Linked DNA regions of Homo sapiens. The protein of the gene in region 7 purifies or fractionates together with the protein of the main gene of each other region. This does not show direct contact. Each region holds a gene or a part of one and is shown on either strand. Other genes may lie near its edges. The genes, in order: QSOX2, AMBRA1, CTSV, RPA3, DNAJB4, ARFGEF1 and TBC1D22A.

Region 1 (4,665 bases), on a different chromosome or scaffold from region 7:
ACTACGATGCTCATTGGATGGGATTGTCCAGTGACGTCACTCTGAGAACCAGAGCCCCCCGTTGCCAGGTGTGTGGGCTCTTCCAGGCTTTGGTGGCTTTGAACGGCGCTGCTGTGCGCCTTCCCGGGCAAGGGGAGAGCTGAGGCTGGGAGAGAAGCCACTGGGCCGCGAACCGGGTCTGTGCACAACAGACCTGCAGGGCCAGCAGTGTCAGGCAGTTTTGTGCTCGCCCAGGGACCAGTGCAGCAGGAAGCACTGGCGGCTTCGTTTGCATTTCCCTGGCGGCTGCAGTGCCAGCACATCTGGCTTTGTGGGCCGTGGGTGTCATGGGTGAAGTGTCTTCCTGTCATCTGCACGTTTCCCTCTTAGCTGGCCAGTGCTTTTCTTACCGACCTCATCTCCGCCATCATGTAACCTTGTCTCGTCGCTGTCTCTAACGTACCCTTTGATGAAGAAAGTTTTTAATGTTAACATAAGAACCTAATCATCCACTCAGAGATACTGCGTGGTGTCTCCTCCTCCTGCACATCCTCCGTGTTGTCACAGCTAACGCTACAGCTAACCATTAAGACATAGGCTCACTACCAAGTCCCAGAGAGCGGTGTCTTTTATGATTCCAGCCCAGTTGAACTGTCTTGCTTCTAGCCCTGTTGGGTCAGAAAATGTAAATGATGGGAATGCTGATTGGAGCTAACCTTAGCCCCCTCGTAAATCTGACAGGAAACATTAATATGCACAAAGACAAGGAGAAGCGTGTGGTTTGTCATTAATTTATGAAAACTTTCCGAAGGAAATTGAGTAAAGCTCCCTCTAAGGTGACGGGCGTTTTGTTGCTTAAACACATGCAGATGCCCATGGAAGGCTGCCTCTTACTTGTTCTGTGTTTTTCCTCTTAGTATTTTAAAGCATTTACAAAGGAGTTTACAACTGGAGAAAATTTTAAAGGTAAGGACATAAGCATTGTATTTTAGTCCCTGAGATTCCCCTCATAAACCTGCTAAAGACACACGGTCCCAGAGCCTGGGGAGCTCCCAGCCTGGGTCAGCACCTTTCCCTCTGCTGACCTTCCTGCCTGCTTTCCCTTAAGAGTTCAGATATTAATAGTTTCAAAGAGAAATTTTAATTTTGTGCTTTGCCTTGCTTGGCAAATATTGTAGTAAAAACTTTTTCAGAGTAAATTTTTTATTGTAAAAATATTTGGAGATGTGCACAGATCACATGTACCCACCCGATGAATTTTTACAAATGATCCCACCCAGCCGAGCATCGCCCAGAGTGTGATCAGACCCCGCAGGCCACACCCTGGGGGGCTCTGCCTGTGAGGGACCCGGTGGAGCTGCCTGGCCTGCTCCTCGCCGCGCCCTGGGGGGGCTCTGCCTGTGAGTGACCCAGTGGAGCCGCCTGGCCTGCTCCTCGCAGTGCCGTGTCTTGCCATCTGCCTCTGTTGCCTGTCCCTGTGGCCCACCCATGCTTGTGTCATTGCTGTGTGGTCTCCAGTTGTGTGAATCCAGCGCTGTCTGTACCACGCCTGTGGGTGGCATTGGGCACACCCATTGGGATTGCACATGTTGCTGCCACCTGCACCCTGCTGTCTTTGGGCCCCAGGCTGGGACGGGGCTGCTGTCCCTGGGTGTATGCCTGCCCCACGAGGACAGCCGCACACACAGCTCTGACCCTGGTGTGCTTCCGGCAGGACCTGACCGAGAGCTGCGAACAGTCAGACAGACGATGATTGACTTCCTGCAGAACCACACGGAAGGAAGCCGGCCCCCTGCCTGCCCGCGCCTAGACCCCATTCAGTGAGTAGCTCCATGAAGAAGGCGGCCGTTAGACTCGTGTTGAACTGTGCAAGAAACGTAATAGGTTTCTATTAAGTGATGTGGCCACTGGGATGTGGTGGCCAACTCGCTGCTGTTGACGGCACTAAAAGCCTCTTTTTTTCCTCTTGAAAGGCCCAGTGATGTTCTTTCCCTTCTTGACAACCGTGGCAGCCATTACGTGGCTATTGTCTTTGAAAGCAACAGCTCCTACCTTGGACGGGAGGTACGGCCTCTGCGTGGGCTCCAGGTGTCACACGTGGTGTGATTGGGGTTGGCGGTGGATCTGTGATGAGATTTGCAGGTGCCGGTCACTGTGTCGGCATCTCGTGTCCTGTCTGTGGCTTTAGGTCTTGTTCATTATCAGAAGCTTAGTTAATGTTACTCAGCAAAGTCACTGGTGTCTGGAGAAGACTGTTAGGATGAATGAGCTTGGCGGTGGGAGGGGTTCAGAAGGTGGCCTAACCCTAGGTTTGAAACTAAGAGGGGGCTTTGCAGAAGATCTCATTTTTATGACACGCCCAGCTCACCTTGAGGTCATTCTGTATTTTGTATGCATTATTACTAAGATTTTTTTCGTTGCCGTATTCTGAACTCTCAACATTTTTGCCAAATCCAAGATTCTGTAAAACGTCGTTTCTATCGTCATACTTTGATTTCACACGTACAGTTCTGAAGCCTTGCTTCTGGCCAAGTCTAAATAAGGTCCAGGGACCAGGTGCAGGGGCAGCTCACGGAGAGTCATTATTGCTGACAGTCTTCCCGGAGACGAGAGAAAGGCCTCACTGCACATGCGTTCGCCCAGCACTCACCCTGAGCTTCTCCTCCTCCTCCTTGCAACTTGATAGGCGACTGTTTTTCTGTCCACTGTGAGGGGCCTTGCGGTGAATGTAGGAAACAGCTTTGCCCCTGCGAGGGCTTTTGGAGACGCACTTGGGAAGGCAGCTGCAGACACCTGCACTGTGACCGTCTCGCTTTGTGCCCTGGCTGCCCTCCTGGCACCCCAGCACCGCCCCCTCCAGGTTTGATGGTGACGCCAGGCTGCCTCCAGATGGTTGGCCAGGATTCTCTGTGGAGGGCTGAGGAACCGCTAGCAGTGTGTGGCTCTCCCAGACCCCTCACCCCTGTCCCAAGGCCCCTCGTGCCCTTGCTGTCTCGGGCGGGGCCTCCACACACGCAGACCAGAGGCAGGTGTTCCCCTGAGAAGAGGCGGGTGTGGGACCGTCTTGGTGCCGGGCACGCTCCCCTACCTGCCTGGCATGCTGGTGCGTTCGGGGCAGCCAGGCTCCACTCGTGCAGGAGGAGTGCTCTTCAGCACAGAGTCACGGCATGGCCCAGAGCAGAGACCAGTGTGGCCCCAGAGTAGCGATCAGCTCTTCGCAGACACACCCAGCTCAGGAGAGGCACGGCCACGCGGGGCGCCCAGTTCACACCTTTAGCCAGGGCCCTTGGTTTGAGGAGCAGCTGGTTTTGTTCCTCTGTTAAGAGAAGGAAAGACGTACGCCCGATGTGGTGGTGGCGCACGCAGGGTTTCTTCCAAAATCCTGAGATGCCACTCCTGTGGTCTCTCTGCCACGGAGACCCTGTTGCTGCCCCTTCAGCCTGAGCAGAACCAGACAGGAGCAGGGTGGCTGGGGAGGAGCGGCAGCACGAGGCCTGCTGCCCCGGCCACGAAGCTTCCACACGCGGGACGGGAGTGCGAGGCCGTGGGGTGTGGCTGCTGTGTGCAGGGACTCACTTGACCAGTATCAGTGTTGTGGGGGGCGCGCTGGTTTTAGAAAGTCAAGTGCAAATTCGCGGATAAGTGTTTTCTTTGATGAGTTTGTAAAATTGCCGAATAAGACCGTGGTTTCTGCTCATGGCGTGTGTGCCGTCAGTTGCCTTAAAGTGCAATGAGAGTGAAGATTTGAGTGAGGGTCTTGCCTGCAGGGGGACAGACTTCATGCCCTTTTGTGAAAGGTTCCCTGCAAGGCCATGTGTCTGCACGTCGTGTTTTCTGAGAAACTGCCAGCCCCTGTGGAAGTGTCATTGTGTTCTCATCCCCCAGGTGATCTTAGACCTGATCCCGTATGAAAGCATCGTGGTGACCCGAGCACTGGACGGGGACAAAGCATTTCTGGAGAAACTTGGTGTTTCTTCAGTCCCTTCGTGTTACCTGATCTACCCAAATGGGTCGCATGGATTGATTAACGTGTGAGTGCCCGGGTGGGGTCTGGGAACTCCGTGCCGCTCGGAGTTACCGGACAGAGGCTCCGAGTAGACAGTGCAAGTCTGGTGTGAGATCGGGGGAGCCCTGGCCCCTCCGCCTCGCTTCCCTGGGCAGATTTGGGCCCTGGCTCTCAGCCCGTGGGTATTGCTGATCTGTGCTGTGTTTTCGTGGATTTCTGTTTTCTCACTGCTGTGTCCCCGCACCTAGGAGGAGCCTGGCGTGGTGACTTACCAAGAGTCGCAGAGGAAACCGTGGCTAAACCAGCACATGCATGAGGGCTGCTGGGCCGGGGCTTTGGGAGCAGCCGATGCTCCTAAAACCCTGCTCTGGGTGGACTCTTGGGATGCAGTTTGGGTCTGTGTCTGGGGCTGGCAGACAAGCCCACGTGCCCACCTCTGCAGAATGAGAAGTAGGGGTGGGCACCAGGCCCTGCCCCTCACGTTCTGCTCTTTCTCTAAGAACTGCAGAACCTTGGCAAGCCCTTTGCCTCTGCGTGGGGTGCCCGTGTGCCCCTCATGAGGATAAGCCCTTCGCCCCTGCGTGGGGTGCCTGTGTGCCCCTCATGAGGATAAGCCCTTTGCCCCTGCGTGGGGTGCCCGTGTGCCCCTCATGAGGATAAGCCCTTCGCCCCTGCGTGGA
Region 2 (4,220 bases), on a different chromosome or scaffold from region 7:
AGGGACAGATTTGGGCACACACACACACACTCAAAAGTACGTGCTGCTGGCAAAAAGCCCTGGAATTGCTTGGATTTTCCATTAGAGCTCTTGAAGAGTTGGGGCAAATATCCTTTTCCCACTTGAGACGGAGTCTCACTCTGTTGCCCAGGCTGGAGTGCAGTGGCGTGATCTTGACTCACCGCAACCTCTGCCTCCAGGGTTCAAGCCTCCCCAGTAGCTAGGATTACAGGTGCGAGCCACCACGCCTGGCTAATTTTTTTGTATTTTTAGCAGAGACAGGGTTTCACCATGTTGGCCAGGCTGGTCTCAAACTCCTGACCTCAAGTGATCCGCCTGTCTCGGTCTCCCAAAGTGCTGGGATTACAGGCGTGAGCCACCACGCCTGGCCAGCTGGAAGCTTTCAAGCAGCCAAAGCCCACGAATAGAGCAGGCCTTTCGGCCACTGTAGGGAAGACACAGTCAAGGGAGACCTGAGCAGCTAGCAACTGGCACCTTGCCTGCAGATAGGACCAAGCCCCTCCACCTGCCTAGCAGGCTGGACACCTGCTGTGCGTGCTTTCCCAGGACTGGAGGGGATCCAGGTTTCTGGCCAGTTACATCACTTCAGGCCTGTAGTCCTGGGTGGGAAGCTATTAGGATGAATAGCCTTCTGTCGTTCCTTCCTACATACTCACCCTGGCACTGGAAGGTGGCCCCAGTCTGTAGCAGGCCCTGGGGAAGCAGGAAGTGGTGGCGTACAGAGAAGTGGTATGAAGCAGAGGTGGCAGCCCTCACCTGACCAGCTCTGGCGAAGGGGTCAGAGGGGTCCACTGCACCCCACTAGGAGAGCACCAGAAACAGTGCCGGGAGAACCTGGGCCTGGCCCAGTTCAATGCCCCTCACTTCCCAATCCCCACCCCTCCCCCATCCTCCTTGGAAATAAGAGAGAGGAGCCTGGCGAGGGGCATGTCATCATTTTAATGATGTGATCTTTGGTGTTTCCCTCATTAGCTGTAGACTATCCCCTCTCCTCCCACCACAATGTTTCTATGATGAGTTACAAACAGAAAGGAAATCACATTTTCATACTAAAAACAAAATGATCAGAGCCTTGATTTCTCCACTAGAAACTACACGTACAGTTAAGAGTCCACATGCAACACCTTAAATCACAGACTGAGACCTCACATTCTGACCTGGAGTCTCCTCCCCTTCCCCAGCCTTGGGCTAGCTTTGGCCTAGGCTCAGGTAATACTGACACCCACAGGCGCTGCTCTGAGGGCCTTGCGGGGAGAAGACTGGTGGACAAGCCCTGGGGGCTGGCCAGCCTACACCCCCCACTCCTGAGTGAGGACCTGCCCACTGTCCCTTGACCCCATCCTGTATCAGGCAAGCAGGCGCCCCCTTACCCCACAGTAGTCCCCCATTAGTAAATGCCGAAGTCCCTGTCCTCAAGAATCTGGGAGCCTGGCCCGATCCCTGTTGGTTTCAGTGGGGTAAGACGACGAAGAGAGGCTGAAGCTCTGGAAGGCTCAGAGTTGGAGGTGGTGTCTGGGTTCCTGGTGGCTCTGCCCACCCAACAGGTGGACAGGGCAAAGCTGCCTCGCGGGCCTCTGTCCAGGATGATTGGCCCAGATCTGGAAGACTGTTCACTCTCTGGAGGCTCTCTGTCCAGGGCTGAGTCCCCTGAGCCCATGTTACTAGGAGAAAGTGGGGTGCCTGGCAGAGATACCCACTTGTTCCTCTATTCACATTAAGCCCACAGTGTGGCTCTCCCGGGCTCCAGATCCTGGAAGGTTCTAGTTCCCCGAGGCAGGCCTTGCCCATTTGACTGTCTTGTGCCCACTGACTGATCTTCCTCTCCACCCTGACCCTCTTCCTCCTCCTGTTCCCTGATGCAGCCAGCAGCTCTTCCACATGTCCAGTTCCCAGTCAGCTGTGAGGTCCGGTTTCTGCTTGGCGGTTCGAGGGGAGGCACCAGTGCAACGTTTGTCTCTACCTGTTCCGTGGTTCTCCCCTAGGGCCTGCAGCGTCCCCCCTGCTGCTGCCACCATCCAGAAGGTGGTTGTTATTGGTCAACTCGCAGTGGAGGGTTGGTCCCTCAGCGCTGGGAAGGGAAACAGGAATGGGGACAGGGGAGGAAGAGGGCAGGGTTGGCTGGGTTGGCTCCCGCCCAGGGGTACCAGGCTGGTCCCAGGAAGCTGTCCGGGGGCTTAGGCCTCGCTCTGCCAGTTGCCCGGCCTCTGGGAGCAGTCCCCGAGAGGTGGAGGGCTGGGGTGAGGAGGTGTGGGCGGCACCAGGTTCAGTGCCCGTCTGAGAGCTGCGGTGAATGCGGTGGCTGACGATGATGTTGTTGCCGAAGCCGCCCATGGAGGCCATGGTGGTGCTCTGCTCCCGCTGCACCACGGCTGTCATGCCGCCCTCCGCCATCAGCCTCTGGATCCTGCTGAGCGCATCTTCTCCACTGGCACCATACTCTGAACCCTCACCTGGCAGATACAAAGCAGAAGAGAGAGCGAATTGGCTGCTGGCCTGGGCCTCTGAGGCAGGTGGGCAGCCACCGGTAGCAGCTGGGGGATTCTTGACTAAACGCAGGATAGAGAAAGACTCGCTCCATCACTGTGAAAACCAATCCGAGTCTTGAAAGCTAGACAAAACCCCCAAAATGTTCACAATCCATACTTCTGTTTTACTGGTGGGGAAACTGAGGCCTAGGATGGCCAGTTAAGAGGCAGCACTGGCCCAGAAGGCAGCAGGTTGGCCTCAATGAGTTCTCTCAGCACCAGTGGCAGCTTAGCATGCGAGAAGGCAGGTTCAGACAGCTGGTTTTGTCTGCCTGCTCCCTGTTGTGGAAACTCAGCAGACCTAGGGCTGAGCTGGGGTATGCCACCCTTTCTCTGCAAAGAGAGTAGGTACCCTATGGGTGTGGCCCAAAGGGAAACAGTCTGCTCTGCTTCATTACAATGCTGTCTTCCTTCAGCGTAGTTTTGTGTTACCTCCTCAAAGCCCCTGAGGAAGCTGAGAGTTATTTTTATATTGATTGATTGATTGATGGAGTCTCACTCTTTCACCCAGGCTGGAGTGCAGTGGTGCGATCTCAGCTCACTGCAAGCTCTACCTCCTGGGTTCACACCATTCTCCTGCCTCGGCCTCCTGAGTAACTACAGGTGCCCGCCACCACACCCAGCTAATTTTATATTTTTAGTAGAGACAGGGTTTCACCATGTTAACCAGGATGTTCTTGATCTCCTGATCTCGTGATCTGCCCACCTCAGCCTCCCAAAGTGTTGGGATTACAGGTGTGAGCCACTGCGCCTGGCCTATTTTATTTATTTTTGAGACAGAGTCTTGCTCTGTCACCCAAGCTGGAGTGCAGTGGTGTGATCTTGGCTCACTGCAACCTCCGCCTCCCGGGTTCAAGCAATTATCCTGCCTCAGCCTCCCAAGTAGCTGGGATTACAGGCATGCACCATCATACCTGGCTCATTTTTGTATTTTTAGTAGAGATGGTGTTTCCCCATGTTGGCCAGGCTGGTTTCGAGCTCCTGACCTCAGGTGATCCACCCTCCTCGGCCTCCCAAAGTGCTAGGATTACAGGCGTGAGCCACCACGCCTGGCCATATTTATTTATTTTTTTGAAATGGAGTTTTGTTCTAGTCGCCCAGGCTGGAGTGCAATGATGCGATCTCAGCTCACTGCAACCTCCACTTCCTGGGTTCAAGCCATTCTTCCGCCTCAGCCTCCGAGTAGCTGGGATTACAGGTGCCCGCCACCACACCCAGCTAATTTTTGTATTTTTAGTAGAGACGGGGTTTCACCATGTTAGCCAGGCCAGTCTCGAACTCCTGACCTCAGGTAATCTGCCTGCCTCAGCCTCCCAAAAGGCTGGGATTATAGGCATGAGCCACCGTGCCCAGCCTTTGTTTTTTGAGATGGAGTTTTGCTCTTGTCACTCAGGCTGAAGTGCAGTGGCACAATCTTGGCTCACTGCAACCTCCACCTCCCAGGTTCAAGCGATTCTCCTGCCTCAGCCTCCTGAGTAGCTGGGATTACAGGCTCCCACCACACCTGGCTAATTTTTTGTATTTTTAGTAGAGATGGGGTTCCACCATGTTGGCCAGGCTGCTCTCGACCTCCTGACTTCAGGCGATCCGCCCACCTAGGCCTCCCAAAGTGTTGGGATTACAGGCGTGAGCCACCGTGCCTGGTCAGAAGCTGAGAGTTTTAACTGTTCCTTG
Region 3 (4,648 bases), on a different chromosome or scaffold from region 7:
GCTCTTGAAGGACAGATGTTCCGGAAAACTGGGAAACTTGTCTCACTGAGCGAGCAGAATCTGGTGGACTGTTCGCGTCCTCAAGGCAATCAGGGCTGCAATGGTGGCTTCATGGCTAGGGCCTTCCAGTATGTCAAGGAGAACGGAGGCCTGGACTCTGAGGAATCCTATCCATATGTAGCAGTGGTAAATGGAGCTCCTTATCTTGTCATTCGTGCTCTGCTTTTGGAAAGTGGAACACTTTCAGAGATAACAGATACTTTTTTCAGAATTCACATTTTATATGGTAGAATCTACATCTGCAAACCGTGAGTATTGTCATTATAAATTATTAGCCTTTGGCCAGGCGTGGTGGATCACCTGTAATCCCAGCAGTTTGGGAGGCCGAGACAGGCGGATCACGAGGTCAGGAGATCAAGACAATCCTGGCTAACACAGTGAAACCCCGTCTCTACTAAAAATACAAAAAAATTAGCCCGGCCTGGTGGCGGGTGCCCGTAGTCCCAGCTACTCAGGAGACTGAGGCAGGAGAATGACGTGAACCCGGGAGGCGGAGCTTGCAGTGAGCCAAGATCGCACCACTACACTCCAGCCTGGGCCGCAGAGCGAGACTCCATCTCAAAAAAAAAAAAAAATTATTAGCCTTTGCACAGTTCTCTGGTGAGATGGTCAACAGCTAATGGTTACCATATAAGTACCATTAGATGGTTAACACACAGCTGTTCTTGCTTTTACATAACATGGAGAATAAGCAAACCATTCTACATATAATAGAACTTTATCCATTGTGAAAAATTTTTTATGGACAGATTGACCTAGGGGTTCTCATTGAAGAAATGTCAACTAATTTTTCATTTTCAAATCAACAAATAGCATTTTATTTCATGGGACGATTTATAAGGGTGTTGATTTGGAAATCCTAGGTTGCAAATTGCTGAGTGTTTCGGTTCTAGAACTAATGTTCCCCAGGAGGTAGATGGTAGTGATCAAGTCTCTCCCCCTTTAACTTTAAAAGGATGAAATCTGTAAGTACAGACCTGAGAATTCTGTTGCTAATGACACTGGCTTCACAGTGGTCGCACCTGGAAAGGAGAAGGCCCTGATGAAAGCAGTCGCAACTGTGGGGCCCATCTCCGTTGCTATGGATGCAGGCCATTCGTCCTTCCAGTTCTACAAATCAGGTAAGTGTCATTTTATTATAGAAATTTAGGCAGAATTGGGAAGCATCACTGTGATTGATTCTTGGATATGACATCCTGCTTTGCAGGAATGTAGTATTTTGAGAGTGAGCATTTAACATAGTGATGTTTGCATTTGACATGAGAAAATACTTAGTTATGTTAAACTTCTCATAAATATTTTTAAATGGCTATGTAATTGTATAGAGACAACCTAATTTTCCAAACTATTTTCCAGTTGTTGGGCCTTTTTTTCTCAAAGTTTTTTACTACTGTAATTAGGACTGTAAAGAATCCCCTTCAAGTTTTTGTTTGTTTATTTTGGTGCTATTTTAGACTGACATCCTAGGAACAGAAAGGGATTATGCGAGTTGGTATTTGGGCTCAGAGATATCTAAATCACCTTAGCTGTAAACAATAGGTTTTATCTTTTGGATTTTCATTTTTTTTGGTAGAAAATATCTTGAACTTAGTTGAAGTTAGTTGATTTCTAGTGAGTTGAGGTTGACTTTTTTCCTTTATCAGCCATTACTGTTTTCCGGCCAATATTGTTTGGGTCCTTATTTGGCATTTGTTTATGACATTTTACTGAATTTAGAGATGCCTCCCTTATGGAGGGTGGTAGGGTGGGTTACTGTCACATGTCGCTTGGAGCTTCTCACCCCAGCATTAATTTTACTCTCCCAGGCATTTATTTTGAACCAGACTGCAGCAGCAAAAACCTGGATCATGGTGTTCTGGTGGTTGGCTACGGCTTTGAAGGAGCAAATTCGAATAACAGCAAGTATTGGCTCGTCAAAAACAGGTATAAAACTCAAAATTGAAAAGGGAATTTTTGTTCCAAATCAGTATTTGGATACAAGTTCACAAAAGCTCAATTTCAAAATTCCGAAAGTCTTTCTTCTACTTAGAGTGAACACAGAAATATTAATGTTTGATTATAAGATTCCGTACCAAGCTTTTTGGAGTTATTGCTATGTATTTGTAATATTTTATTACTAAGTTTTGAAAATTTTTAAATTCTGAAACACATTAGTCCTCAAGGGTTTCAGACAAAGGACTGTGGACCTGTAGGTTTGAGAGCTGATTGCTTTTTTCTGTCTAATTTTTCAACAAGGAATAGTAAGCAGAAACATCTGCCTCTGCTGGTTCTTTGTTAAGTCTGAGAGATCATCCGGGAGTCCAGTGGTCTGTGTGCATCCTTCTATTGTCATTGGATGCCCTGTCATCGAATTTCACTCCCCAGCTCTCAGGCTTTGAAGGTTGTCAGAATCTATTTTCTCACAATTAGCATTCTTTAATTGAGATGTGACATAAGGTAGTATGTGGGGACAGACTGCTACAGTGGAATTCCAGTTCTGCCTCAGTATCTTAAATAGTTAAGGACCCACAAGAATCAATATATTCATTCATTCATTTGTTTATTTATTTTTTGAGACAGAGTGTCGCTCTGTCACCCAGGCTGGAGTGCAGTGGCACGATCTCAGCTCACTGCAACCTCTGCCTCCTGAGTTCAAGTGATTCTCCTGCCTCAGCCTCCCAAGTAGCTGGGACTACAGGGATGTGCTACCATACCCAGCTAATTTTTTTTGTATTTTTTAGTAGAGACGGGGTTTCACCATGTATGCCAGGCTGCTGTCGAACTGACCTCATGTGATCCGCCTGCCTTGGCCTCCCAAAGCACTGGTATTACAGACATGAGCCACCGTGCCCAGCCAGTTTTATTTTATTCTGAGATGGAGTCTTGCTCTGTCACTCAGGCAAGAGTGCAGTGGTGCAATCTCGGCTCACTGCAGCCTCCACCTCTCGGGTTCAAGTGATTCTCCTGCCTCAGCCTCCCAAGTAGCTGGGACTATAGGCATGCGCCACCACGCCTGGCCAATTTTTATGGGGGTTTTTTTGTTTGTTTTTTTCTTTTGAGATGGAGTTTTGCTCTTCTTGCCCAGGCTGAAGTGCAGTGGTGCAATCTTGGCTCACTGGAACCTCTGCCTCCTGGGTTCAAATGATGATTCTCCTGCCTCAGCCTCCCAAGTAGCTGGGATTACATGCCCGGTTAATTTTTTTTTTTTTTTTTTTTAATTTAGTAGAGGCAGGGTTTCACCATGTTGGTCAAGCTGGTCTCAAACTCCTGAAACCTCAGGTGATCCACCCGCCTCAGCCTCCCAAAGTGCTGGGATTACAGGCATGCACCGCACCTGGCCAATTTTTGTATTTTTAATAGAGACGAGGTTTCACCAGATTGGCCAAGCTGGTCTCAAACTCCTGACCTCAAGTGATCTGCCCACCTCGGCCTCCCAAAGTGCTGGGATTGCAGGCGTGAGCCACTGTGCCCAGCCTCAGGACATTTATAAATGGATATTAACAGCATTTAGAATAGTGCCTGACACATGGGAAGCACTGTTTAAGTATTAGCTATTATTATTAATGGAGCCAATTTTCCCTTGATTCCTTGTATAAAATGGAAAACCTGCTCCTCTTTCAGCTGGGGTCCAGAATGGGGCTCGAATGGCTATGTAAAAATAGCCAAAGACAAGAACAACCACTGTGGAATCGCCACAGCAGCCAGCTACCCCAATGTGTGAGCTGATGGATGGTGAGGAGGAAGGACTTAAGGACAGCATGTCTGGGGAAATTTTATCTTGAAACTGACCAAACGCTTATTGTGTAAGATAAACCAGTTGAATCATTGAGGATCCAAGTTGAGATTTTAATTCTGTGACATTTTTACAAGGGTAAAATGTTACCACTACTTTAATTATTGTTATACACAGCTTTATGATATCAAAGACTCATTGCTTAATTCTAAGACTTTTGAATTTTCATTTTTTAAAAAGATGTACAAAACAGTTTGAAATAAATTTTAATTCGTATATAAAGGTGGGCCTTTTTTTAATGCATTGGCTTTTTGTGTAGTCAGGAAATATAATTAAGCTCTGAAATAATAACTTCATGTGCCAATGGTATGTTAGGAGAAAGATGCTAGCAGAAAGCTGGCTTCCTGGCTCTTGAGTAGTTATAAAAATACAGACTTTATATCAGCTGCCCAGTTACTGTGTGTTACCCAACTCCTGAATCTACCAAAATTTGATAAACAATTTGGAAGGACAAACCTACATTTTTTTTTTTTATGAGACGGAGTCTCTCTCACTCTGTCACCAAGGCTGGAGTGCAGTAGTGTGATCTCAGCTCACTGCAACCTCTGCCTCCCGGGTTTAAGCAATTCTCTGCCTCAGCCTCCCGAGTAGCTGGGATTACAGGCGCGTGCCACCACGCCTAGTGTATTTTTAGTAGAGAGAGGGTTTCACCATCTTGGCCAGGCTGGTCTTGAACTCTCGACCTCGTGATCCACCTGCCTCAGCCTCCCAAAGTGTTGGGATTACAGATGTGAGCCACTGCGCCCAGCCCCTAAATTGTTTTAGTAAAGAAGAAAGCAGTTGACTTTTTAGAAAAGGAAATGTCTTCTTCCTTTG
Region 4 (4,665 bases), on a different chromosome or scaffold from region 7:
CTAGAGGTCCTAGACCATGCAGTAAGACCAAAAGATAAAATGAAACCACAAGGATTTGAATGAAACAAAACTCACTATTCACAGAGGTTATAATTACGTACTTAGAAAATTCAAAAGAATCTAAAGATGAATTATGGGAAGTAAATATTTTATCAAGATGGTTGCTACAAGTATCAGCTACATGTTTCTATGCTGGCAACAAACAGAAAATACAACTTTAAAAATATTTACTATAATAATAAAACAAAAAAGCACTCTAAGAATAAATCTGACAAAAGCAGAAATGTGATTTTTATGAAAAATGCATGGCAATTTTACAAAAATGTATTAAGGAAACCTAAGCAAATGGACAGAAATATATTTCTGAAGAAGACTAAATATTGTAAATATAGCAATTCTCCCCTAAATTAATCTATATGTTCAATAAAATTTCAACAAAAATCACATCAGAGTGGGTAGGTTTGAGTGATTATCCATCTGTTATTCATTTTTTATTTATTTGGCATAAGATCAACTGATGCTTCATTATATAGAAAAGCAGAGAACAAAGGAAGGTTGAGATGGTTTTAAAGGATGGTAATATAATGAGCTTTATGACATTGGCTAAGAGAGAGAAAAATAGCCTCATAAAGTAGGAGAACCAAAGATACTATATATGTAAGAGTAAGCTTGGAAGATACGTGAAGAAAAGAAGATGAATTAATCCAAAATAGTACTAAGAAAATAGGTTATCCCTACAAAAAAAAATTAAAATCGGATCGCTATACCACACTATAACCAAAGTTAACCATAGAGCTATAAGAAGATGCTATAGGAAGATGACTTTCTGATCTCCAAGAAGGGACTTTTTAAATCAGACTGAAATATGAAAGTTAAGGAAAAGTTTTATATATTTTAAAACTGTCACATCAAAATGTCTCTTCATTAACAGATAAAAAGAAAAACATAAGTCATTAAAATGCAACAAAATTTGTAACTAGATCCCCTTAGAATCAACTTTTTAAATGACAGACAATACAGCAGGGAAAAGAGATCAATAGTGATTTTACTGAGCAAAAAAACCACATATGACTATTAAACATAAATAAAAATGTCCAATTCCATTATAAACAAGAAAATGTAAATTAAAAACACAAGATACCATTTTCTAACCAACAGACTGATAAAAATTTAAGTCTCACAGTATTACATGTTAAAAAGGATAGAGTATAATATCCTTGAAGTACAATATCCTTAAAAAGGATAGAGTATAATATGAAAAGGATAGAATTTTCATATACCACTTGGGAAAAAAATTTGCCATGATTTACTAAAGTTAACATGTGCATAGCCTGTAATTCCTCCCGGAAATAAAATCTAGAGGAAAGCTCACATATGTGCACCAGGAGACATGTACAAGGATGTTTGTAACAGCATCATGTTGTCTTTTAATTGAACTTTTTCAGATAATTCTAGATTCACAGGCAGATTGGAGAAATTATATGGAAATATCCCATGTAGCTTCTACCTGGTTTACCACAATGGCAACATCTTGCAAAACTATAGTTCAATACCACAACCAGGATATTTCATTCACACAGACCAGATACAGAACATCTCCATAACCACCAGAATCCCCAGTGTTATCCTTCTATAGCCACACACACTTGCCTCTAACTTTCACCCCATCCTTACCCACCGGCGACCAATGATTTCTCTATTTTTTGTGTACAGTTTGGTCATTTCAAGAATGCTACATAAATGAAGTCATACAGTACGTTACCTTTAGGGATTGGCTCTTTTCACTCAGCATAATTCTCTGGAGATTCATCCAGGTTGTTGTATATATCAACAGTTTGTTACTTCTTCTTGCTGAGTATTATTCCATGATATAGATATACCATAGATTTAACCATTCACCTGTTGAAGGATATTTGGTGTGTATCCAGTTTGGGTCTATTATGAATAAAATTGCTATAAATACTCAGTTTTATGCACATATACGTCTTCAATTTCTCTGGGATAAATGCCCAAAGTGTAATTGCTGAGTCGTATAGTAACTGCATATTCAGCTTTTCAGAAACTGTCTATTTTCCAGAGTAATTGTACCATTTTACATTCCTATCATCAATAAGTGATCCAGATTCTCTTCATCCTTACCAGCATTTGGTGTTATTACTATTTATTTTAGCTATTCTGATACAGGTTTGTAGAGACCTATCATTATGGTTTTAATTTGCATTATGGCTAATGACACTTATTCATGTGCTTATTTGCCATATGTATATCCTCTTCAGTGAAATGTCTCTTCATGTCTTTTGCCCATTTTCTAATTTGGTTTTATGTTTTTTTGTTTTTTGTTTTTTACTGCTGAGTTTTGCAAGTACTTATTCTAGGGACTAGTCCTTTCATTTTGGGCAATTTTTGCATAAAGTGTGAGACACAGATCAAGGTGTTTTGTTTTTTCTTCTGCCTACTAATGTTCAGTAACAGCACTGTTTTTAGGAAAACAAAACAAAACCCCAAATGTTCATCATCAGAACAGATATATAAATTGTGGTATATTCATCAATGGAATGTCAAATAAAAATGAAAGAACTAAAGATACATAGAGCAATATAGATGAGACCAGATACATGATACTGAGTGAGAGAGGCAAATTGCTGAAGAACATATTGTACATACATTGTGAGTGACTCGATTTATATATGGTTGTAAAACATACAAAACTACACATATGAAAAATATGTTAACACTATTTAAAAAGAGACCCCAAAAAAGCAGAATTTAAAGAGTGGAATTTACCTCTGAGGTGGGAGTAAGGAGAAGACTTAGAGAACTTCAAGGTTAACAAGAAATTATATTTCTTAAACCAATTGGTGGGTACACAGGTGTTCATCACATTGTCATTCTGAATATGTTCTCATTATTTAAAAAAAAAAACTTTAAAAGGTTATTTTTCAAATTGAGATTTGCATAAGCAAGAGCTAAGAATAATAGCTGGTAAGATGTCACTTTAAAGATCTTACCCTCAGCAGGTAAAAAAACAGTTATTATAAATTGTAATACAGGAACATACCAAACAGACCCTTGTTAGGGAAAGATGACTTCTGAGCAAACAGGTGACTTCTGACAAACCATTCTTATCCCACAAGCCTCATTTTGCCCTTGCAGGCTCAGCGCCTGACTTTTCTTTCAACTTCAAGTCCCCCAGTCATTCACCTTCTCTCCACACAGTTCCTTCTGCTTTGTTTTACAGCATTCTGCCCTCCTCGGGTGGCAATGCTTTAAGTCAACACCAACATCTGACCTCTCCAGCTTATCCACAGGACTTATCTTCTTAAGAGATGGTGTGAGGACAAAGGGTGAGCCTTCCTGACTTGAATTAATGACGACCCACAATTGAACAAGTTTCTAATGTTCATATTTACAAAGAATATAGTCTAGAATCTCAGTTAAATCCATATTAAAAGTAACCCCATGCATAACATTATTCACACATATAATTGAGATAAATCTCAGCACACAGATAGGAAAACAAAGACAGTCAATTTCAAACAACTAATAAAATTATTTAACCATTACAAAATCCCTTAACCATGCCGAATTTTGCAAAATATCTAAGAAATTATTATGCAAGACACTGAAAGATGTGTTATTAAGTAGTTAATTGGTATTTTTAATAGTTAGGACTGTTTTCCTCTTCTGTCTTCTCCTCCTCTCCTCTTTTCCTCCCACACTTTCTCCCTTCCTCTCCCTTTCTCTCTCTCTCCCTCTCTCTCTCTCACACACACACAGACACACAAACACAAACACACACCCCTTGCTGGTTAAAAACTTCTTAAAAACATACAACTGCCTGTATTTGTATATATACATATGCATTTGGTGTCTTGTTATAACTTCCCTTTAAACCACATATTAATGGGCAAAAAAAGTCCTAACATTCTATCTGTTGAAAAGCTGGGTCTGTCTCCAATAAACATAGTTGCTCGTTTCAGTCAAATCAGCTTATTTACTAATTATAAAATATAATTTTAAGATGGCCAAAACGAAGTAGTAGGAAAAGTATATTACTACTTTAATGGAATTTGCTTCTATTTTTGAGGTCTGTCCCAAAAGGACAAATATGTTGACTTATTTTTAAAGGTTTCCTTTCAATGTTTCAAGTTATAAAGCACTGCTGCTTTTGTAAAAGATCCTATTAATTTCTTAACAGAGTGTTAGACCTGATCCCCTTATATCCAAAATGGTAAATGCTGTCTAATAAATACATGGGTGATTGAATAAGGGTCACTGACACTTGGGTAACTGTTTAATACAGAAACAATTTATAATATATATCTCTCTACAAAACTAAAGCTGAGCAATCAATAATTTTGTCTTCCTTCGTCTACAAGTAGCTTATTCAACATTAACTAGTAAACCAAGGGTGAAAGGGAGGGTTGTAAATCACGAAGAAAAGATTCATTTTATTCTTAATTCCCACTTGAATCTATGTAAAATGTTAAGTTACAGACAGTTAAGGAGAAGCTGTTGTGTTTGAATATGTAATTGCTATTTAGATGATAATGGCGTGGATGTCGCAGCAGAACCATGATCCAAATTTGAATAAGGTCTTAATGAAGGAGGCTAAGAGAAGAATGACGACTGAAATACAACAGTGTCAGCAACAGACCTTAATGA
Region 5 (3,526 bases), on a different chromosome or scaffold from region 7:
CTCTATGGAACACTATTGTTTCTTACCCTGCTCTAATACCTACCTGCTACTGCCCAATGCTTAGTTCAAGCATCCTCTACTCCCGGAATCTAAGGGGTTAAGTTGGGTGCTCTTTCTCTTACAAAAGACCTCCATGCTTACCTCTGTTCTTACACTATACAGTATTATAATGGCTAGTTTGCTTCTATGTTTCTGTGAGTTCCTTGTGCATTCCTTGAGCTGGGGTCTGTGTTCATGGTCCCTATAAGGCTCACCATCTAGCCAGAATGTGTGGCATATAGTAAATGCTCAGTAAACATTTGTTATCTAAAACAAATATATTTCTTGTCCTAATACTTTCCAGAGAAATAGTTGCTCCTATCCAGTTCTTTCTAGTCCTGAATTTCTCCCTCTTCTCCCATTCCAATCCCTGCATCTTGAATATATTAATAGCAGCTTCAAAATAACCATGTCATTCCAGGGCAATGTGGAATATATCCTTTACTTCTCTTTTACCTTTTCTTTTCTTCTTCTTTTTTTTTTTTTTTTGTAACATATCTAATAATGCATGTCCTGAAGGAATTTTCCTTTTTTTCTTTTCTTTTCTTTTTCTTTTTCTTTCTTTCTTTCTTCTTTTTTTTTTTTTTTTTTGAGACAGTTTTGCTCTTGTTGCCCAGGCTGGAGTGCAATGGCACGATCTCGGCTCACTGCAACCTCCGCCTGCTGAGTTCAAGTGATTCTCCTGCCTCAGCTTCCCGAGTAGCTGGGATTACAGGCATGTGCCACCACGCTCGCCTAATTTTGTATTTTTAGTAGAGACAAGATTTCTCCATGTTGGTGAGGCTGGTCTTGAACTCCTGACCTCAGGTGATCTGCCCGCCTTGGCCTCCCAAAATGTTGAGATTACAGGTGTGAGCCACCGTGCCTGACCTCTGAAGGAATTTTCTAATGAGGAAAAAAAATTTATAACTATTGTTATTCTTTTGGAGGTTAAAGTTTTACCTTAGTGGTATTATCCTTTACCATCTGGTAAAATTTGTGCTTAGATTTTTGAGTTTTGAAGTGTTTTCATTTTATTTTATTTGGTCCATTTTAGGCATTGTGTGGCTGCTCAATTAATGTACCAACACTGGATGGAAGAAACATACCTATGTCAGTAAATGATATTGTGAAACCCGGAATGAGGAGAAGAATTATTGGATATGGGCTGCCATTTCCAAAAAATCCTGACCAACGTGGTGACCTTCTAATAGAATTTGAGGTGTCCTTCCCAGATACTATATCTTCTTCATCCAAAGAAGTACTTAGGAAACATCTTCCTGCCTCATAGAATGAAGAACTTTGTTACACATATTTTGATAAGGCACTGAAAATATAAAAGGACTGGTAGTTTACTGATGTAGATGTGAATTCTGTATAAAGATGTGTAAATTCTTTTGAGGGTTCATTAAATTGCATGAATAGAGACGGGTCAAATAAATAGGCAAAAGGGATTTTTACAGTTAGAGATAAAAGAGAAAACCATTCACTGTATTTTATTTCATTTCTCCTGATTCAGATATTTTTAGTAATTTGCTTATATGTAAAAGTTGTTTTTGTGGAGTCAGTGGATATATTTCTAATGAAGTGCTAGACTATCCAATTACTTAATTTCTTATACCTTTAGATAATCAGTATGAAAAGTTCCCATTTATAATGGAAATGAAAATTCTTAACTAAACTATACATGTAATATGTATTTCTAGAAGAGAATAAAAACCCAAGTCAGTTATTAGATTTAAATCACCTTCTGAAATGCTGCTATAGGGCTGGTATCTGTAAAAGAATATCCTGATGCATCTGTTTCACCATTTTGATTTTTAAAGTATGCTGTAGCATTTCTTAATAACATCGTTGTGATGTTCTTAAGGCAGATCTTTCTTCATAAAAAGGAAAGTAATGGCAATTTCTCTCCTGTGGAAATCCCAATTGCTTGAATTACTGATATTTTAGAATAGACTTTTTAAAATGCCATATGTAATTTTATGCAAGTTGACTATATATCTTGTACTTAATAAATTATAGGCTCATTTTGTTCTCTGCTAGTTTAAAGTAATTCGTTTAATAATAGATGTGTTTTTAGAGGAAATGCTGTTACTTGGAATTAATTTTCCAGTTATACAGTCTTCTATAACTTACTAATAATATTCTATATGTACTTTATGTAATTTCCCTAAAAAGAATGAACTACCACTACACTATGGTGTTAAACCAAAATATAGGGAAAATAAACACTAACTGCTGCTTATGGATAATGTTGCAACTACTTGTTATGCATATAAATATTTTACTTTTTCACATGTATAGATTGCATTTCTTAGGTGTTTTAATTTTTTAAATATATTTATGTTTTAAAAATTTAGTTTTGTTTTCTGTTTTATAACTATAGTGAGAATGATGTTTTGAAGCAAAATTTTTGGTTATAAAATAGTTTTCAGGATTATATATATATATACTGGATCCTATCGCCTTTTAGTAGAATATGAAATATTCTTTTAGAAATCCAATATAAATAGGTTATAATAGCCATATTCTTTATTACTTTATTGAGATATAATTTACATGCCATAAAGTTTACCCTTAAAATATATAATTCAGTGGTTTTTAGTGATATTTACAAAGTGGTACAATCATCATCACTTTCTAATTCCAGAATATTTTCATCACCCCAAAAAGAAATCCTAAATCCATTAGCAGTTACTTCCCATTCTTCCCTTCCTCCAGCCCCTGAAAACACTACCATCTACTTTTCATCTGTATGGATTTGTCTGTTCTGGACATTTCACATAAATAGACTCAAACAATATATGGCTTTTTTTTTTTTTGGTCTGGCCTCTTTCATTTAGCTTAATGTTTTCAAGGTTCATCTATGTTGTATCACGTATCAGTACTTTATTTTTTGTGTGGCACGTCATATGGATATACCACAATTTGTTTATCTTTTCATTAATTATGGGCATTTGGCTTATTTCTACTTTTTTGGCTATTATAAATAATGCTGCTGTGAACATTTGTGTGCAAGTTTTTGTGTTTCAATTCTCATGGGTATATACCTAAAAGTGGAATTTCTGGGAGTAACCATATATTTGAGTTGCAAATGGAAAATGCTTGAAAAAAATGCCACAGAATTCAGCTAATCGTATTTATTACTCTAATTCATAAATGATTCCTCTATAACTGTCTCTCTGAATGACAGTTAAAACTCCCTACAGAAGTGTGAACATTACAGAAATTTTCTCACAAGTCTAAAGATCTAGATCTGAAAAGCATCAGTCAACGTGGTGAATGATAGTGGTTTCTGTTTTAAACCCATCATTATTTATTGCAATTTTCTTGATTAAGCATTTTCTCCCAGGTAAAATAAATGATTTATAGATAGATATATAATAATCTTTGGATTAAAAAGTTTTTTTAAGCAGAGAATTATTATTCTAGTAGTAAATAAATTTACATAACTACACAAAACCAGTATACCAGTATCTCTCTTATCTTAAAGGATATTGACAAT
Region 6 (4,665 bases), on a different chromosome or scaffold from region 7:
ATTGTGATAGTAGGAAAAAAGGGTTGAATATACCTTTTGCTCAGGTAAGTGTGAGGCAGTATAGAAAAGTGGTTAATAGGATAGACTGTAATCACCCTGTCCTGGTTTGAATCTTGGCTCTAGCACTTACTAGTTCTGTGACTTAGAGGAAGTTATTAAATATCTTTGTGCCTCAGTTTCTGTGTTTATAAAATTGGGGATTTAATAGTACATGCTTCATAAGGAATTTGTGATTATCAAATGAGTGAATATTGATATTACACTAGAAAAGAACCCATCTTGTGATTGGTAGCTATTACTGTTACTGCTATGACTACTGTGACCTGCTCCTGCCTTTAAAGTTTTCCTTTTTATCATGCAAATCCTATTTTGTGCATTCTAAGTTGAGGAATGTCATCCTTCTTGAAAGTGACGTCAAACTCTTGGTTGCAAACCCAGAATATGGGTTAAAATGCAGACTTTAAAAAAGGAGGACTAATGTGTTTATGCTGAAATTTTTTATGAAACTTTGAAACAAAAAAAGAGCTCAGCAAAGAAGAATGGGCAAAGCTGGGCAGTGTTAGCTTAACTCCAAACATTTGAATGCCCTAAGGAAAGTGGTTTGGCCAATTCTTGGGTAAACTGAGACTATTTGCAAGGTTATATTAAGTCACTTTTAGTGTAAATGAACTTTCTAATCAAATATACTTTACTGGTAAAAATACGTCAAATTTTTCATTTTAAGAACTTGCTTAATGCTAGACAATAATCAGGAAAGAATCTGTAGTGTGCCAATTATTAGTTTTACAAATTAATATTTTTCTTATTCTTAGAATCTCATATCTATCCGGGGTTTGTAAATCTGATAAAATTACAGCAGTATATACTTACCCTAATAATAATATTGAATGTAAACTGGTTCACATGGAGTAGAGGTGGAGGGGAGGGAGAAACATCCAGACTACACTTGTTACTAAACTAAATGATGAAAAATACTCATTTGAATACCCAATTTTTTGTTCCCTTAAAACATAAAAATAGCTAGTACCCCATGCCACATACTTTTCAATTGGAATAAGAACAGTAACTTATAAATTTTTTAAATTGTGTTTTATTTTCCCTAGAATATTCACAGGATCTACAAGGCTAGATGGAAATGCCATTGGTAAGTATGGGCATTTATTCTACTTCGGAACTGGCTTGGGGCTAAAATAACTTTAATGTTGAGCTAAAAAAAAAATGTATTTATATTACAGTGGATTTTGTCCGTTGGCTCTGTGCTGTGTCTATGGATGAATTACTTTCCACGACACACCCAAGAATGTTTAGTCTACAAAAAATAGTAGAAATATCATATTACAACATGGGAAGAATAAGATTACAGTGGTCTCGAATTTGGGAAGTTATTGGAGATCATTTTAATAAGGTATTTGAATAACTATGGTGTTTGTTTACATTTGTAGTATATTTTTTGTTTAGAATGTCCTTGTAATCAAATTGAGCCTTTTTCCCTTCCAAGCAATTATTTATTACTTTTTAATATTAAATTAGAAAACCCTGTGAATGGTGTTTTTCTTTTTAGAAATGATTGCTCTGGGCTTTAAGAATTTGATTTAAAATATCTGTTTTTCTTGTTGAGAAATAGTTTTAGCATACTTAATGCCTTTATGGAAAATCTTAGGATTTACCTATCTATGCTATTCTATACTTTTTCTAAAACAAAAAATAAAGAATTGTAGATTTTTACTGCTGATATTAATTAGCATCGTTTATTTCTGTCGCCATTACAGGTTGGGTGTAATCCTAATGAAGATGTAGCTATTTTTGCAGTAGACTCCTTGAGGCAGTTGTCAATGAAGTTCTTAGAGAAAGGGGAGCTTGCTAACTTCAGATTCCAGAAGGATTTCTTAAGACCTTTTGAACATATAATGAAACGGAACAGGTACTATATTTGTTGAATTGCTTAATAGAAGGAAAATCTTGTTGTTTTCCACAGCAGGGAGAAAAACAGAAGAAAGGGGGAAAAACTGATGAGTTTTATCGGTTTGCATATCCAAGCAATTATATTAATATTTTTAGGTCTCCAACAATTCGAGATATGGTTGTACGGTGTATAGCACAGATGGTTAATTCTCAAGCTGCTAACATTCGATCTGGATGGAAGAACATTTTCTCTGTATTTCATCTAGCTGCATCTGATCAAGATGAAAGCATAGTGGAACTTGCATTCCAAACAACCGGGCACATTGTCAGTGAGTATTCTCTTAGCTGTGTTCAAGTAAAAGGAAAAAAAAAAAGCAACCTTAACGTGTTCAGAAGATGATTCAAGTAACAATAAGATTATGGCCTTTAAGTTTACCAAGCTTTGTCTACAGAACCAGAGTAAATAAAAACAATTAAATTACTATTATAGTTAACATTTATTGAGTATTTACCATATGGCAAATACTGTGTGCACTTTTCACGTAATTTCTTTAATCTTCACAGTTAAACATTATTGTCCATCCCTTTTTTCAAAATAGATTAGGAAACTCAGCCCCAGAAAGGTTAAGCAGTCTATGTAAGGTCACAGAACTAGTGATGGAGATGGTCTTGAGACCCATGGAGTATTAAAGCAAAGCCTTTATTTTTGACCAGTAAGTACATTGCACAGCCTTCTTCAAGGAGGAGTCCCCTTAAGTTCAAGGGGGACTGACTGAAATACTAAGATTATAAGTTAAGCCTATATGGAAGATGACAATGATGACCATCAACATCAAGAATCATGGCATCATCATAGCTATCATTTATTGCGTGCTTGCTTAAGTATTACACTAAGCACTTCACTTATATTATTTTACGTAGTGCTTACAGCTATCTGTGTATATTATTATTATTTCCATTTTATATCAAGAAACCGAGATACAGAGAGGTTAAGTAATTTTGTATATTCATTCAACCAAAGTTGAATCAGTACCTACCGTGTACCAGTCACTGTATTAGGTGCTATGTTTATAATGTAAACAAAACAGACAAGTTTTACTATTCTCACCACTCAGGGCAGTCAGTTAAGTGGTAAAGATAGTCTTGAACTTCGTATCTGTTGGATGTCAGAACCTGTAACAACCTTTAAGAGGAAGTGCATTACATCTAGATGTTGGTGTATTTTTGGTACAGCTAAGAATAATTGAAAAATTATAGTAATATATATTTTTCTCTATTTTAGCCCTTGTATTTGAAAAACACTTTCCAGCGACCATTGATTCTTTCCAGGATGCAGTGAAGTGTTTGTCTGAATTTGCGTGCAATGCAGCTTTCCCAGACACAAGTATGGAAGCAATTCGACTTATTCGCCATTGTGCAAAATATGTGTCTGATAGACCTCAGGTATAGCGTCATTTAGTAAACAAAATTTTGCAGAGTATTCTTTCCAATTTGAAATCTTAAGTTTGTTTGGGAATTGAGGGTATATGAAGCATTTATTTTTCAGTAATTTGAAAAATAATCTGAGCAGCCTGATTCCAAGTTAGGATGGTTAGTGATTATAACTAACCATTATTGAAAGTGTCAGGTATTTTTCTGAGTGTTTTTCATTAACTTGTATTAACTTGTTTAATCTTCTAATGGCTTTATGGGGTAGATAGTGTTATAGCCCCATACAGACAAAGAAACTGAGGCACAGAGAAATTTTAAAATGTGCCCATAGTTTCAGGGCTAGTAAAGTAGAACTAGGGTTTGAGCCCCAGCCTGTGTTTCTAACCATTCCCTACAGTGCATCTTGTCTGTCTGTGCTGTGTAATACTGAAGCTGACTGACTATGGATGAGAATAGGCTTAAGCTCTAAAGTAAAAGGTTGAATTGAAAATCTAGCTGCCATATTTAACTTGTATATTTGAATCTATCTTTGTAACTGTCATAAGAGAAAGTGATGTATCGTAGATTTGGTAATAAGATTTTATTCCGTACTACCATGGACCGATCAGGTGCTTGGTACTTTTTAGATACGTCAACTCATTTCACCTTCATACTTCACCAGTGTGGTTAATGTGGCTGTCTGGTATCATAACCATTTAAGTGATAAAAATGGAAACCTGAATTAACCTGGCTAATAATGCAGAAAGCTGGTGACAGTTGAAAGTGAAGCTAACTTTTGGATTCTAGTCCAGAGCTCTTTATAGGCAGTTATGTTTTGCCTATTTCAGTGGCACATATACTAAAATTGTAGGCAGTTATAGTGTCCATTTTTTATAAATTATTTTTTATTAAATTGCTCACTGGTTATTTGTGAAGCATTTAAATTATTTTTTGAGAAGTTAGTATACTGAATGTATGGGTGTTATGTTTTGCCTTTAATAACCCTACCTTTTTTCTTGAAGGCTTTCAAGGAATACACAAGCGATGATATGAACGTAGCACCTGAAGACAGGGTGTGGGTGAGAGGATGGTTCCCAATTCTCTTTGAGTTATCCTGTATCATCAATAGATGCAAATTAGATGTAAGAACCAGGTAACAATCTATATTTGTAATTAAAATTTTGGATTTATTTTGACTTTAATCAAATTAACTCTTCTTTATAAACACAATCTCACAGTTAAAGACCATAAAATCAAGTGTTTTGTCAAATATATTAATTATTAGGTATATTTTAAAATATGTTAATATGATTTAAAAATATTAACTAGAGCAAAATAAAAATGGAAATACTA
Region 7 (4,665 bases):
CTGGAGTGGATGTCGGCCCGTCAGCTGCAGCGTTTGCTTCGGCTCCATTTCCTGGAGTTTATTTTTCACTCTACTTTAATTTTCAGTTTTTGAAAAATGAGATAGCTAGACAGGATTTAGACCCAGGAGTTTGGAGCCTTTCCCAGCCTCTTGCTTGTTGGTCTCGGATGGCAGTGTTGAGTGATCTGAGGGCCTTAGGGTCTTCCCTTGGGCTGACCCGGTCCCGGGTTGCTGGGTGGAACGTGCTGTCTCACCACCTGCTTGGATCCCCCTGGGCCTGTCCGTCTTGGGGGTCAGTGGGGCCATGGTGGGCAGCAGCAGAGGGCGGGAGGGAGGGCGGGCAGCTTGTACTCTAGTGCCACTGCGGTCACTGCCTGTGGTGGGGTCTGGGAAGGTGCCATCCCTCACCTGTCTGGCTTCCTTTGTTTCCTTGGGATGAGGGTCCCTGTGGGACCTTCCTCCCAGGGCACTGGTGAGACCCAGGAGGGCCAGGCAGGTGGCGGGGTTGGGCACGCTCTTGAGATGGCAGGTGAGAGCCCTCGCAGCGCCCTGGTTCCTGCTGTGTCCCCACTGTTGCCTTCTGTCCTCAGCACCTCTGCAGGCTTTCTCCTTTCCCTCATGGTAACTCACGGGCTTGCCCTCCGCACTCAGGCCTGGCTGACCCGAGGGCACCGTCCTACACAGACCCTCTGGGTCATGTCACCTGGGCAGGCCCTGATCTGCCACCCCAGGCACTGGTGGGAGCCTGACCTCCACACAGCCCGAGGGGCCCTGGAGTTTTCTGGCTGTCATTGTGTTGCTTTTATGCAAGGTGGTCCATTTTGTTGGTGAATAATACTCTGCCAGTGAAGCGAGTGAATTTCAAAGGTGTCAGTTCCATGTTATTGCTCAAGAAACCAAGGTCCCCACTGCTGAGTGATGGGAAGAAGGGACCCATCAGCATTCACAAAGGGACAGTGGCACAGCAAGGAGGAACGTGTAGTCGGGAGGAGCGCCCTCACCCTCACCCCCATTCTCTCACCCCTGCAGAAAGTGCCAGCGATGCCGCCCCTCTGCAGAGGTCCCAGTCTCTCCCACACTCGGCCACCGTCACGCTGGGTGGCACATCTGACCCCAGCACTCTCAGCAGCTCAGCGCTGAGCGAAAGAGAGGCCTCCCGGCTCGACAAGTTCAAGCAGCTGCTTGCCGGCCCCAACACGGACCTTGGTAAGCACCCTGCCCTCTGGAGGACACACACAGACATTTCTTGCTGTTTCTGAAATAGATCACATCTTAAAGGATTCTATGTATGCTTATGTAATGCACACGCGTCCGTGTGTAATTTGCCTTGCAGGAAGGTGATGTTTTCATGTAATATTTTCAAGTCAGTCACTAAGGTAGTAGCAATTTGTGCTTTAGACAAGTTTTGTTAATGTTTTTCCCATGCAATTTGAAAATGTATTTTGCGTTCCTTTTTGTTTTCTTTTTTTAAAATTTGAGACAAGGTCTTACTCTGTTGCCTGGCTGGAGTGCAGTGGTGTGATCATAGCTCACTGCAACCTGGAATTCCTGGGCTCAAGCAATCCTCCTGCCTCAGCTTCCTGAGTATGTGGGACTACAGGATTGTGCCACCATGCTCACCAGATTTTTTAAACAATTTTTTCTACAGATACGGGTCTGCCTGTGTTGCCCAGGCTGGTCTTGAACTCCTAGGCTTAAGAGATCCTCCTGCCTCAGCCTCACAAAGCACTGGGCTTAAGGCGTGATCCACCACGCCTGGCCCATTCTGTTTTCCTGTTGTCCCATTTGCACTCTTTATTATTGCTGCCCTTGGTGAGCCCTTCGAGGCTGGCCAGGTGGACATCCTTGTTCTTGACAGTATTCTGAAGACAGTGGCTCATGGGGGCACAGCGCTGGTGACCATCAACTCAATCTGCTGGTTTTGTACTTTCCTACCATGGGGCTTGCAGTCATCAGAGGGTGACAGGCTGTGAGCCCTGCAAGGGGGCAGGGGTGAGGCTGGGGCAGAGGGGCAGGCCCACAGGGCAGAGCACAGTCACCAGTGTGACTCTTCCTGCGCGAGTTGCTTCCAGGCACACGCAGTGCCCATGTGGACTGCCGTGGCCAGGCTCTGTGGAACGCACTTGCTTTCAGTTCCTCTGGTGGAATTCCTGCTGAATCCACGTCCTTCCTTTCCCTATCTCATCTTTGTGGAGTGCCACTCTGGCTAGGTGTTTGCTAGACGCTGGAGCTCTCGGGAGGACCGGAATGTGGCCTTGGTCATGAGATTGCTTCATTGAGGGGACAAACCTGTATCACACAGTTATGACTGGTGTCACTGTGGCACTCTAAGAGCCAGAGGTGCAACGCCTGGCTTGGCCAGGAGGTGGCGAGTGGCGCACGCGGATGGGCCGCCAGGAGCCACGCAGGAGCCATGCAGGGGCCATATAGGAGCTTGCAGCAGCCGGGCCTTCACGCTCAAGCCCAGGGCAGGGAGAGGGTTTCCGGGCAGAAGCAGCGGTTCAAAGGGCATGGCTGAAGCTGTGTTCTCGAGGCGGGGGAGGGCTCTTGGAAGGTCTCCTGGCTAGAAGGACACAGCTCTGAGTAGAGTTCTCAGAGTGGGTGGTTGTTTCTTCCTTATGTTTGTTTTTTTTTGAAACAGCAACACTTGCATGTGTTATAACATGACACAGCACAGCAGGGTGTATGTGAAAATGAGGCCTGTCCCAGCCCCCACCTTCCCTTCCTTTCCACAGCTCGAGGTGTCTCCTTCCAGCGATGGCCCATGCATCTGTTGTTTTAAACGTTTCGTGTTGATGCAATTCAAACTTGCAGAACAGTTGGCATGAATAGTGCCAACAACTCCCATATGCTCTGTACCCAGAATCACCAATTGTTTACGTTTGCCCATTACCATTCTGCATGTGTGTGCCTGTTTTTGTGTGTATATATACATTTTTTTCCTGAACCATTTGAGAGTCAGTTGGAGATATATCCCTTTACCTCTGAAACCTTCGCTGCATATTTCCTAAGCACAAAGACATTCCCTCAGTATCATCACAGCACAGGGGTCACAATCAGGAAATTTAACGTTGACACAGTACTATTTTAACACTTGTATTATTTTCATCCACAGTCCATAGTCACATTCTGCCAGTTGTCCCAGTAATGTCCTTTCCCTCTTTTTTCTTAGTCCAGACTCCAGTGGGGACCATGCGTTCCATTTGGATGTCACGCCTCTGTCTTCTCCACTAACCTGGCGCAGCAGCTTTGCCGGTCTCTGCATTTCCATCTTGACACTTTAGCAGAGCACGGGCCAGTGATTTTGTGGGATGTCCCTTGGTTTGTGCTTGTCTGATGTTTGCCCACAATGAGATTCTGATTGATAATTTTTGGCAGGAACATCACTGAAGGGATTCGTGTTCTCCTTGGTCATCACAGCGGGGGCACGTGGTGCTGGTGGGTCCTCACGTTGAAGATGTGGACTCCGATCACTTGGTTGAGGTGGCGTCTGCCAGCTCTTTCCACTGAAGAGCTCCCCTTTTTCCTTTGGTGATGAAGTGCTCTGTAGAGAGATGCTCTGGGGTCTGTGCATTTCTACAGTGTATTTCTTTGTCCCCTTGCACGGCAAGGCAGTTGTGCACCTCACTTTTTAAGGGAATGATACATTTTCCCATGGCGTACGTGGAGAACCGCCTTAGTCTTTAGAGTGCCCTGTAACATGCCATCCTATGGATTTCCCCCGACTTGACTGCACCAGCCCCTGCGGTTGGGCAGCGGGTTATTCCTAACTTGCTATTATTACAAACAACTTGAGAACGTTTCTTCAGGCGCCTGAACCTCCTTCTGTGATGGTGACACAGAGCATCCCTAGCCATGGGTGAGGCGAGAAGGCAGTGTGGGGGATGGGTCTGTGAGTTCGCCTAGAGCACCAGGTGTGGAGGTGTCACCCACCAAGACAGGAGATAAAGGTAGATCGTGCTTACGGGAGTCTAGTCTTGTAGTTGACGTACCCATCTTGGCCACTTCCTCTTCTAGCATGCCAGTGCCCCTTCTCTGCTGGCTCTCCTGCCTCCAGGGTGGTGTGGAGATTCAGAACCACGTTGCACCTGGGAGAGTGGGTCCTGGAGCCGGGCTGCCTGTGTGGAGAGCTGGCTCCACTGGTTACTCGCCACGTGACCTTGAGCCAGCTTGGTGATGATCCTGCTCTCAGAGTTCTTGTTTGCGTGATAGACATGATGAAAGCGGTGCTCATTTTGCAGTTTAAATGAGATAGTACATATGACATGCTTAACAGAGTGCCTAGCACATACTAAACACTCAAAAATGTTAGTTATTTTTATGGTTGTTGTTACGTTCATTTGAACTGGCCTTTTTATCTTCTCACTTGATTTTTGTGCTATTGACGTATATGGTCACTTTTGTGGTCATTGACGAGTCAAGGACTTACAGATGTTTTCCTGGTTGTGTCCTGTGGTTTCCAGCAGTAGGCAGGTGGAGGAGAGACAGCTGGTGAAAGCAAGATTTGCCTGATGGGAACCCTGTGCTGGGTCAGGCTCTGAGTACCCACCTGGAGCATTCTGGAGGACTTTGTAATTGAACCAACTTTTGGAAATTAAAATCACACTTAAAAGTAAAGCTTTCAAGACTTGTAGGAAGATGGGAGTATGTAGGGCTAGATTTTAG

What was found.
Region 1: the proteins of TBC1D22A (region 7) and QSOX2 purify together in Homo sapiens (affinity purification with mass spectrometry, with the first as the bait; one large-scale study listed by BioGRID). This does not show direct contact.
Region 2: the proteins of TBC1D22A (region 7) and AMBRA1 purify together in Homo sapiens (affinity purification with mass spectrometry, with the first as the bait; one large-scale study listed by BioGRID). This does not show direct contact.
Region 3: the proteins of TBC1D22A (region 7) and CTSV purify together in Homo sapiens (affinity purification with mass spectrometry; one large-scale study listed by BioGRID and IntAct). This does not show direct contact.
Region 4: the proteins of TBC1D22A (region 7) and RPA3 purify together in Homo sapiens (pull-down; one large-scale study listed by IntAct). This does not show direct contact.
Region 5: the proteins of TBC1D22A (region 7) and DNAJB4 purify together in Homo sapiens (affinity purification with mass spectrometry; 3 studies listed by BioGRID and IntAct, with this or other methods). This does not show direct contact.
Region 6: the proteins of TBC1D22A (region 7) and ARFGEF1 purify together in Homo sapiens (affinity purification with mass spectrometry, with the first as the bait; one large-scale study listed by BioGRID). This does not show direct contact.

Annotation. Positions count from the first base shown.
Region 1 is NC_000009.12:136,221,141-136,225,805, reverse strand, and holds part of QSOX2 (sulfhydryl oxidase 2 precursor), read left to right. Parts: intron 1-896; coding exon 897-945; intron 946-1,693; coding exon 1,694-1,799; intron 1,800-1,952; coding exon 1,953-2,043; intron 2,044-3,864; coding exon 3,865-4,010; intron 4,011-4,665. UniProt on the Homo sapiens protein: Catalyzes the oxidation of sulfhydryl groups in peptide and protein thiols to disulfides with the reduction of oxygen to hydrogen peroxide. May contribute to disulfide bond formation in a variety of secreted proteins.
Region 2 is NC_000011.10:46,395,473-46,399,692, forward strand, and holds the end of AMBRA1 (activating molecule in BECN1-regulated autophagy protein 1), read right to left. Parts: intron 2,472-4,220; coding exon 1,978-2,471; 3' UTR 942-1,977; downstream 1-941. UniProt on the Homo sapiens protein: Substrate-recognition component of a DCX (DDB1-CUL4-X-box) E3 ubiquitin-protein ligase complex involved in cell cycle control and autophagy.
Region 3 is NC_000009.12:97,032,061-97,036,708, reverse strand, and holds part of CTSV (cathepsin L2 preproprotein), read left to right. Parts: coding exon 1-186; intron 187-1,015; coding exon 1,016-1,181; intron 1,182-1,865; coding exon 1,866-1,983; intron 1,984-3,660; coding exon 3,661-3,760; 3' UTR 3,761-4,648. UniProt on the Homo sapiens protein: Cysteine protease. May have an important role in corneal physiology.
Region 4 is NC_000007.14:7,708,039-7,712,703, reverse strand, and holds part of RPA3 (replication protein A 14 kDa subunit), read left to right. Parts: intron 1-4,665. UniProt on the Homo sapiens protein: As part of the heterotrimeric replication protein A complex (RPA/RP-A), binds and stabilizes single-stranded DNA intermediates that form during DNA replication or upon DNA stress.
Region 5 is NC_000001.11:78,014,939-78,018,464, forward strand, and holds the end of DNAJB4 (dnaJ homolog subfamily B member 4), read left to right. Parts: intron 1-1,075; coding exon 1,076-1,309; 3' UTR 1,310-3,026; downstream 3,027-3,526. UniProt on the Homo sapiens protein: Probable chaperone. Stimulates ATP hydrolysis and the folding of unfolded proteins mediated by HSPA1A/B (in vitro).
Region 6 is NC_000008.11:67,224,703-67,229,367, reverse strand, and holds part of ARFGEF1 (brefeldin A-inhibited guanine nucleotide-exchange protein 1), read left to right. Parts: intron 1-1,103; coding exon 1,104-1,144; intron 1,145-1,235; coding exon 1,236-1,405; intron 1,406-1,769; coding exon 1,770-1,921; intron 1,922-2,058; coding exon 2,059-2,231; intron 2,232-3,184; coding exon 3,185-3,345; intron 3,346-4,334; coding exon 4,335-4,465; exon of another isoform or gene 4,466-4,665. UniProt on the Homo sapiens protein: Promotes guanine-nucleotide exchange on ARF1 and ARF3. Promotes the activation of ARF1/ARF3 through replacement of GDP with GTP. Involved in vesicular trafficking.
Region 7 is NC_000022.11:46,796,415-46,801,079, forward strand, and holds part of TBC1D22A (TBC1 domain family member 22A), read left to right. Parts: intron 1-1,029; coding exon 1,030-1,206; intron 1,207-4,665. UniProt on the Homo sapiens protein: May act as a GTPase-activating protein for Rab family protein(s).